Regions from separate parts of the Homo sapiens genome. Here regions 2 and 3 are each linked to region 1. The links come from fine-mapping of genetic effects on gene expression. A gene starts in region 1. Each other region holds a variant in brackets. All regions are shown on one strand. Distances are between the middles of the regions. Region 1 holds the start of GNPTAB (N-acetylglucosamine-1-phosphate transferase subunits alpha and beta). Region 2 overlaps MYBPC1 (myosin binding protein C1). Region 3 overlaps GNPTAB (N-acetylglucosamine-1-phosphate transferase subunits alpha and beta).

Region 1 (2,500 bases):
ATCAAAACTATAAACAAAGACAGAATCTCACTCCAAACTTGCATGACTCATTTCACAGTACCTTCCCCTAATCTTGGCCCTGTTCTACAGCCTAAGTACCTGGTTCAAATCTCAATTCTGTCATTTACTATTTGTGTGATGTTAGATAGTTACTTTTTTTCATCACAGTTTCTTGATCTGTAGAATGGGGATAATAATGGTATCTCCATTATAAGATTATTGTGAGGATTAGATGAGCTGGGCACATGGCAGATGCTACATAAATGTTGGCCATTATCCTGAGAGTCCTGTTGAGTGGCAGATGTTTTTATATCTGTTACCATGCTTTTTTACCCCTTCTGATTAAGTCCTCAGATCTGTTATCATGCTTGAAAAGACCTCAGAACTATATGTGTCTTGTACAACTGCAATAATCTTTTGCCATGTACATATAGCATATATCAATCATCTTTTTTAAAAGAAGGATTAAAAGAAGTGACTGCAAAGTGTAAAAAATCTTGCCTTGGATTGGAGTGAAGCTAACCCCTTTTGCAAGTCTGTTAATTCCACCTGACCATCAAACTGAGGGTGCGAATTTGAGTATTTCCTGAAGCTGGTTCCCAAGATATTTTTAAAAATGCTTTGAATGATGGCAACATTAGATAAGTGTATTGTTTCCCAGGGTGACTAGGAAAAAAATCTTATTGACTAGGGTGCATTGGGATTAAGAAAAAGATCTCCCTTTCGTAAATCAGAGGCACCAAGGAAAGGATCTCGTGGGAAAAACCTGCTGTCAAAGTCGGATTACCTGGCCACCCCTGAGCTGGTTCCCCTCCAGTTCATCGCATGATTTCTATCATAACAACTCTTGTATTTAGTGGTTTACATGTTTATCTCCCCCACTAGACTCTCTGAGAACAGTAGCCAGGTCTAGTTCATTTTTGAATACCTGACACCAAGCACTATGCCACCTAACAGGCACAAATTACATATTTAACGACTAAATGAATGAACGAAATTCGGTTTTGGCAGATTTAACCCAAAGGTTTCCTCTTTCAAACAATATAGTTGGGGGTTGGAGGAAAGGAGCCACATACAGCATCTCCTTTTAGCACTCTGCAGAGAATGCTAAGTGCAGAGAAGGTTTTATGCACAAAAATATTCATGGCATTATAGTACCGTCTATGGCACAGTCTCGACGCAGGGGGCAGTTTTCTCTTGGTCGCCTGCCCAACCGGGTAAGTGGATCCCAGCTCAGCTCCGCCCCTCCCAGCCCAGCCCTCAGGGCCCGCTGCGCAAGCGCAGGTGGGGAGGGCGCGCACCTTCCCTATGCCCCTCCGTCCTCCAGGTGGCGCTGGAGACCCCGCCGCCGCCGCAGCCGCCTCTCGCCCGGCCAGACCCGGGCGGCGCCGGCCGCCTCGCCGGCCGCAGGTCCGCCTCCGCCGCGCCGAGGGCGTGGGCTCCCGGCTCCCGGAAGCGGCGGCCGCGGCGCGGAGCCGAGCGGGCGTCCGTCGCCGGAGCTGCAATGAGCGGCGCCCGGAGGCTGTGACCTGCGCGCGGCGGCCCGACCGGGGCCCCTGAATGGCGGCTCGCTGAGGCGGCGGCGGCGGCGGCGGCGGCTCAGGCTCCTCGGGGCGTGGCGTGGCGGTGAAGGGGTGATGCTGTTCAAGCTCCTGCAGAGACAGACCTATACCTGCCTGTCCCACAGGTATGGGCTCTACGTGTGCTTCTTGGGCGTCGTTGTCACCATCGTCTCCGCCTTCCAGTTCGGAGAGGTGAGTAGCGGCGCCGCAGCCTGGACCGGGCGCCTCGACCCTGCACTGCCCTCGCCGTGCCCCGCGATGCCCCGATACAGTATGTATTTTTTCATTATTAGAGACGGGGTTTTGCCATGTTGCCCAGGCTGGTCTCGAACTCCTGAGCTCAGGCGATCGCCCTGTCTCGGCGTCCCCGAGTGCTGGGATTACAGGCGTGAGCCACCGCTCCCGGCCAAATACAGTATTCTTTATCATAAACGTGTGCAGAGACTATGAGCAAGTCAGAACTGGAAAAAGGCATGTATGTGATTTTAGATATTGCTCCCTCGCCCACCGTTTTTTAAAAATAGAGACGGAGGTCTCCCTATGTTGCCCAGGTTGGTCTGGAAGTCCTGGGCTCAAGTGATCCTCCCTTCTTGGCTTTCTAAAGTGCTGGGGTTACAGGCATGAGCTACCGCACCTGGCCCAAGAAAGCCACTTTTAGCAACGGGGAGGAAAGCTGTATTTTTAAGTGGTTTGAAATCTGTTCCTTAGTTTTAGTTTTTTTCTTTTTCTTTTTTTTTTTTTTTTTTGGTAGGAGGTTACAAAAGGTTTTAAAATTTAACAGAGTAGTTTTTAGAAATGCCACAGTATACATTTGCTTGAAGTCTTTACCCATGCTGGATTGTAAGCTCCGTAAGAGAAGGTGCTGTCTGTAAATACTGTAACCCTGGCCCAAGCACAGTGCCAGGTACTGCCAGAGAATGCAGTGCAAGTGTTTGTTT
Region 2 (2,854 bases), 230 kb after region 1:
GAAGTTTCGCCATGTTTCTCAGGCTGGTCTCGAACTCCTGGGCTCAAGTGATCTGCCCGCCTCAGCCTTCCAAAGTGCTTGGATTACAGGCATAAGTCACCACACTTGGCTGTATTCTTGTATTTTAAACGTTATCAATTTTACTTTTATTTATTTATTTTGAGACACAGTTTTGCTCTTGTTGCCCAGGCTGGAGGGCAATGGCATGATCTCGGCTCAGTACAACCTCTGCCTCCCAGGTTCAAGAGATTCTCCTGCCTCAGCCTCCTGAGTAGCTGGAATTACACGGGTCCACCACCACGCTCAGCTAATTTTTTGTATTTTTAGTAGAGACAAGGTTTCACCATGTTGGCCAGGCTGGTCTCAAACTCCTGACCTCAGGTGATCCACCTGCCTCTGCTTCCCTGAGTGCTGAGTTTATAGGCATGAGCCACCATGCCCAACCAATTTTAATTTTTAATTCAGTAAATATATGACACACTAATACAATATTTACTGTATTCCAAATTAAAGTTAGTGTGTATAATACACTAGTTATGCACATAAACAAATGATCTTTAGTTTATTCAATAATTGTTAAGGGTGCAAAGGGATCTGAGACCAAAAGGTTTGAACCACTGGTTTTGAATTTATTGCAAATCTCTTTGGAAAAAGATTTTGTGCATGTTATTTTTAAAACAAACTCAGGTCATATATATCATATACATCTGCAGCTTTGATAAAATGAATGAATCAGTCAAAATAAAAACCTTACATTGATTTTGAAGCAATAACTCATTTTCCTAAGTGCACCATAATAGAGACAAAAGGGCAATAGTGTCTAGTAACACCTACCCTATGCAGAATTCAGCTATCTAGCAACTTACCTAACAGCTTCTGACCACCCAAATAAAAGGGCCTCTGAAGGGCCTCTGCATTTATCTCAAGCTCCTACGTTCCAGGCACTAAGAGTTTCTGTGTTTTCCTCATGGAAGAAGGCCCTAGCTCCTCAGTAAACCCAGGGCCTGGGACTTGGGAAAGGTAAGCAGGGTGCCTGAGGAGCAAAATTTAAGGAGGTCACTTAAGGGGCTGAACCTGCATTTTGGTGACCCAGAAAGTCAGTGCCTTCTTAAATGTTGTGCCTTAGGTGGTGCTAAACTCTACTCAGCCAGATTAATTACCTGGAATGGCGTCTATAATAAAGGACAAAGGGGAGTGAGGGGAACAGTTTCATATGCTGACTGACAAGAGTACTAAAGAAGACAGCACACTTCTAGGAGGGATAAAGTAGGAAAGCTAAGAAAAATTGGAAAGAAATTCAAAATACAAATCAATATGAGTCCATTTTTCAAAAGAGCAAATAATTTGGGCCCTCAGGGTGTCACATGCTACTAATAACTGATATCTATAATTTAAGACAAATTATATCCACTGTACTTTATTTTTTAAAGCAAGGAGTAATATATTACATTTTAAGAATGTTTCTATTCAAACTGGTGGAAAAAATAAGGCTCTGAGGTTATATAACAAAATTAACCTTTAGCTGTGCAGAGAATCCAGCTATTCAGAATGATTCAATCAATTTAATCCATATTTATTTACTATGGTCGAATGTTGCC[A/G]AAGACTGTACTGTACTCTAATGTTCTGAATAGATGAAGTCTAATTGTACCTTGATCATGTAAATATTCAATGACTCATTATTCAACCTTTGGAATTTCCCTGAATCTACAGGGTTTTTTTTCCTCCCCTAGTCAATTCATTCTTTTGTCCTTCTAATTATGCAAGTTTCATCTCAGGATGTCATTTCACACAGGAAGAGGATTAAAATATGGTCCTTATTACATAGCAACAAATAGCTTCTCATTGTTAACATGGGGCTGGGGGAAAATTGCTAAGATCTGAGGACTTGCCTTCCTCACTACTCTTACCATGTTTTAAAGAATCAAATGGGGTGTGTTTTGCAGGGGAAGATTTACTCAGATTGAAGGAGCTTAAAATTTTAGCATAGGTCAAAAAGAAATTATTGCAAAAGCAATTTGAATTGTTAACAGTTTCCTCCTTTACTGTGTCTTTTTTGGGGATCTTGAATCAGTTATTATTGTTATTATTATTTTGAGACAGAGTCTCACTCTGCCACCCAGGCAGGAGTGCAGTGGCATGATCATGGCTCATTGCAGCCTCCTGGGCTCAAGTGAATCTCCTGCTTCAGCCTCCCAAGTAGCTGGGACTACAGGTGTACACCACCACATCCAGATAATTTTTGTATTTTTTCATGCTGTTTCACCATGTTGCTTGGGCTGGTCTCAAACCCCTGGGCTTAAGCAATTCTCTGGCCTTGGCCTCCCAAAATGCTGGGATTACAGGCATGAGCCATTGTACCTGATCTTGTATCACTTATTTATGTGGCTATAGGGTTATAGGATAAATTTCTTAAAGGCCTTGCTCCAAACTGTTGCTGGACCTCACATTGGGTGACTTTTTAAAAATAGAGGAAGAAGAGTCCTGACGCCAGGTGGGGTCATAAAAATAAAATTCCACCGCAATAAACACAGTGACACTCAATCAATCACCCACCACATCCATATGTGGTCATGGAGAGTTCTTTATGTGGTCATCTCAGGAAAGCGCAGACTGAGGAAGACCCTATCCACCAAAAAGCACCCCTGATAAGAGAGAGAAATCTTCTTTTTTTTTTTTTTGAGACGGAGTTTCACTCTTGTTGCCCAGGTTGGAGTGCAATGGCGCGATCTTGGCTCACCACAACCTCCGTTCTCCCAGGTTCAAGTGATTCTCCTGCCTCAGCCTCCTGAGTAGCTGGGATTACAGGCATGCGCCACCATGCCCTGCTAATTTTGTATTTTTAGTAGAGATGGGG
Region 3 (2,830 bases), 55 kb after region 1:
GCAAGAGGGCTGGAGGCCTGAACATAAATGGTGTTTTCAGGGAACCAAGGCAATGGTTTCTAGCACAGGCAGGGATTTTGGTGAGGATGAGATTGTAAAGACAGGTTGAGGCCAGGTTGAGAAACGTCTCTGTTAAGAATACTAGATTTTTTCCTGTAGGCCGTGGAAGGACACAGTCTGATCTGCTTCTAAGGAACATACTAGGGAAAGGTGTGGTAGGAAAACCAGTTCAGCTGCTGCTGCCATAGCCCAGTAAGACGTTCCCATGCAAAAGTTGCTTGGCAGTGGGATGCCAACGATGGAAATGGTTCCAGAAGCATCTGAGAGAAACACTCAACATCACTTGGTGACTTACAAGCTATTCAGGAGGAGGAAGAGGAGAATGAAAGGGGAGGTGGACCTTTCTGGTGAAGATAGAAGTGATGGAATTAACCACACTCAGAGCTTCAGTGGCAGAAGCAAGTGTCTTTTGGAAGGAGACCCAGAGCTCAGTTTCGGATGTGTTGCATTAGGGGTGTACGTCGCATGTCAGAGGAGAGGGCTGTTAGACATTGGACTTCAAGACTTGAACTGTTGAACCACTTTGCCCTCGCAGGTTCCCCCAGGAGGCCTTTGCCATGGCCTGTGGCCCTGGAGCCACCTAGGGCTCAGCTCAGCTCTGCCCTACAGATTCTCACTAGGCCACGGGTATCTCAGGACAGGTACTGCCCTATTCACCTTTTTACCCTTAGTGATTACTTGGCACTTAGGGGGCTGCTTAAGGAATGAGCCATATGAGGCAATATCTTGGGATATATAGGGAAACATTTTCAGCAGTATGATTATTCACAGGAGTCACTCTAGGCACAGAAATGTGTCTTTGCACATTGTTGTATATACACAACTAGGCCTTTGTCATCCTGTTTAGAACAAAACCTGAAGTTTTTTGTTTTTGTTTTATTAACTGAGGCAGGAGTGTAGGACTTGAAAATAGTTTCATTTGTAAGATAATGGATTTGAATTCATAAAATCTTTTGACTGTAGTCTTATAAATCAGTCTTTTCTGTAAGAGACTTTCTAATTTGAAATACCTTGAGGTGGGTCCTTTAATAATCTGATTAATTACTCTCTAATTTATCTGTATAATTTTTGTGTATGACGGACACAGAATTCAGCTTTTGATAAATCAGATCATCAGTCCTTATTTTCAGATCCCTCTAAATCATTTTGTATCCATAGAACATTTTCATTCATGGTGGGTTTTTGCATTTATTTTTTGATTTTTGCTTTTGTTCACTTCTTTTTTAAACATATTTTAGAGCAAGTGGGAAATCTTCCCAAAGCTGTCAAGTGAATTCTCATGCTAAGTTTCCTTCAATTATAGTAGTTGTTGAGTGAGTGTGCAAAACGTGGAGGAGATGTAGACCCTGCCCTCAAGCATTTATAGTCACATTTTGGAAGCAGCGTGTGTGTATAGAGTTGGCAGTTGGAAACAGGAAAAGTCTGTGTGGGTCAGAGACATGGGGGAAGTTTTCAAAGAGAAAGAGGCTGCACTGGGTTCTTGAAGACTGAACAGGTGGTTTGTGCAGGCAGGATGGGAACAGCATATTGTCCTGCATGGACTCTGCCCCCCTCAAAGCTCTGGTCAGGGCCTAAGGTCACAGTAAATTGTCATAATTTTCTACTAATGCCCTTTCTTTTAGATAATTCTCTGAAACCACTATGTGCACTTGTTCTTTTAAAGCACGGTACCTTTTTCTTTTTTTGTTTTATTTCTAAAATAAAGATGAAACAA[C/A]CAACTCTGAAACTGATTAAGTTTTAGAAAACCACCAGGACGTATTAAGATCTAGTAGCGGCCGGGCATAGTGGCTCACGCCTGTAATCCCAGCACTTTGAGAGGCCGAGGCGGGCAGATCATGAGGTCAGGAGATTGAGACCATCCTGGCCAACATGGTGAAATGAAACTCCATCTCTACTAAAAATACAAAAATTAGCTGGATGTGGTGGCGTGTGCCTGTAATCCCAGCTACTCGGGAGGCTAAGGCACGAGAATCACTTGAACCCAGCAGGCAGAGGTTGCAGCAAGCCGAGATGGTGCTACTGCACTCCAGCCTGGCGACAGAGTGAGACTCCGTCTCAAAAAAAAAAAAAGAAAAAAAAGATCTAATAGCTTTGAATTGTTGAATCACTTAAAGGCACTAATTTGGTTTTCAGTTGGTCTTAGCAGACGTGGGGTTTTTTTCCTAACAGATTTTTAATGATTTTAAATCAAATGAATCCAAAATGAAAGTAGATTACACCTTCTGAATTTGTAAGCACTTTAAAGTTGTTGGGAAAATAACTTCTAATAGGAAAGCCTTGTTATTTTGGATTTGCATGTTCTTCTAGACCAAATTTTCTCCACCTTTGCACCATTCACAGTTTAGACCTGTTGCCGCTATCCTTGGGGGACTGTCCTATGTATTGTAGGATGTTTAGCAGCATCCCAGGTCTCTGTCCTTCGGGAGTATTTGCAGATATGTGATTGTTTAGACAACTTGACGCAGCCTTTCTTTTTGGCATTGAAAAATGACCAGTTTGATATCATGATTTTTAACTAAGGCTTATCTTAAAATACTATTTTGTCTGCCTCAAAAGGATACCTTCTCTTTTGCACTCATTATTTTTGCTTGACTTAAAAACATGCATTCAAACTTACCTGTATTTGTTGGCTACTATTGTTTTTAAAGCCAATTTTTAAATATAGGCTACAATGCTGAGAACAGTAGAACGAACTGTTGAATATTCTCACTTATAATAAGCAATATCTTAAAGTGGCTCTATGTATTTTATATTAATATGCTCTAATCTT

Evidence for each region. PIP is the estimated chance that this variant, and not a neighbour inherited with it, causes the effect. A credible set is the group of variants that fine-mapping cannot tell apart.
Region 2: its variant is the best candidate, but not a certain one, in a credible set for the expression of GNPTAB in esophagus mucosa (GTEx, PIP 0.56).
Region 3: its variant is the best candidate, but not a certain one, in a credible set for the expression of GNPTAB in nucleus accumbens (GTEx, PIP 0.54).

The regions. Positions count from the first base shown.
Region 1 is chr12:101,829,813-101,832,312 of GRCh38, reverse strand. GNPTAB (N-acetylglucosamine-1-phosphate transferase subunits alpha and beta) reads left to right here and starts at 1,354. Exons shown (of 21, transcript NM_024312.5): 1 at 1,354-1,754. The coding sequence starts at 1,638. RefSeq lists silencers at 1,172-1,571, 1,928-2,222.
Region 2 is chr12:101,603,170-101,606,023 of GRCh38, reverse strand. The region is part of intron 1 of MYBPC1 (myosin binding protein C1); the gene reads right to left. All of the region lies in intron 3 of LOC105369938 (a long non-coding RNA gene), which reads left to right. Among named protein-coding and RNA genes, the nearest start is that of MYBPC1, 9.6 kb to the right of the region's middle. The variant A/G (reference allele first, on the strand shown) is at 1,599.
Region 3 is chr12:101,774,666-101,777,495 of GRCh38, reverse strand. All of the region lies in intron 7 of GNPTAB (N-acetylglucosamine-1-phosphate transferase subunits alpha and beta), which reads left to right. Among named protein-coding and RNA genes, the nearest start is that of SYCP3, 37 kb to the right of the region's middle. The variant C/A (reference allele first, on the strand shown) is at 1,775.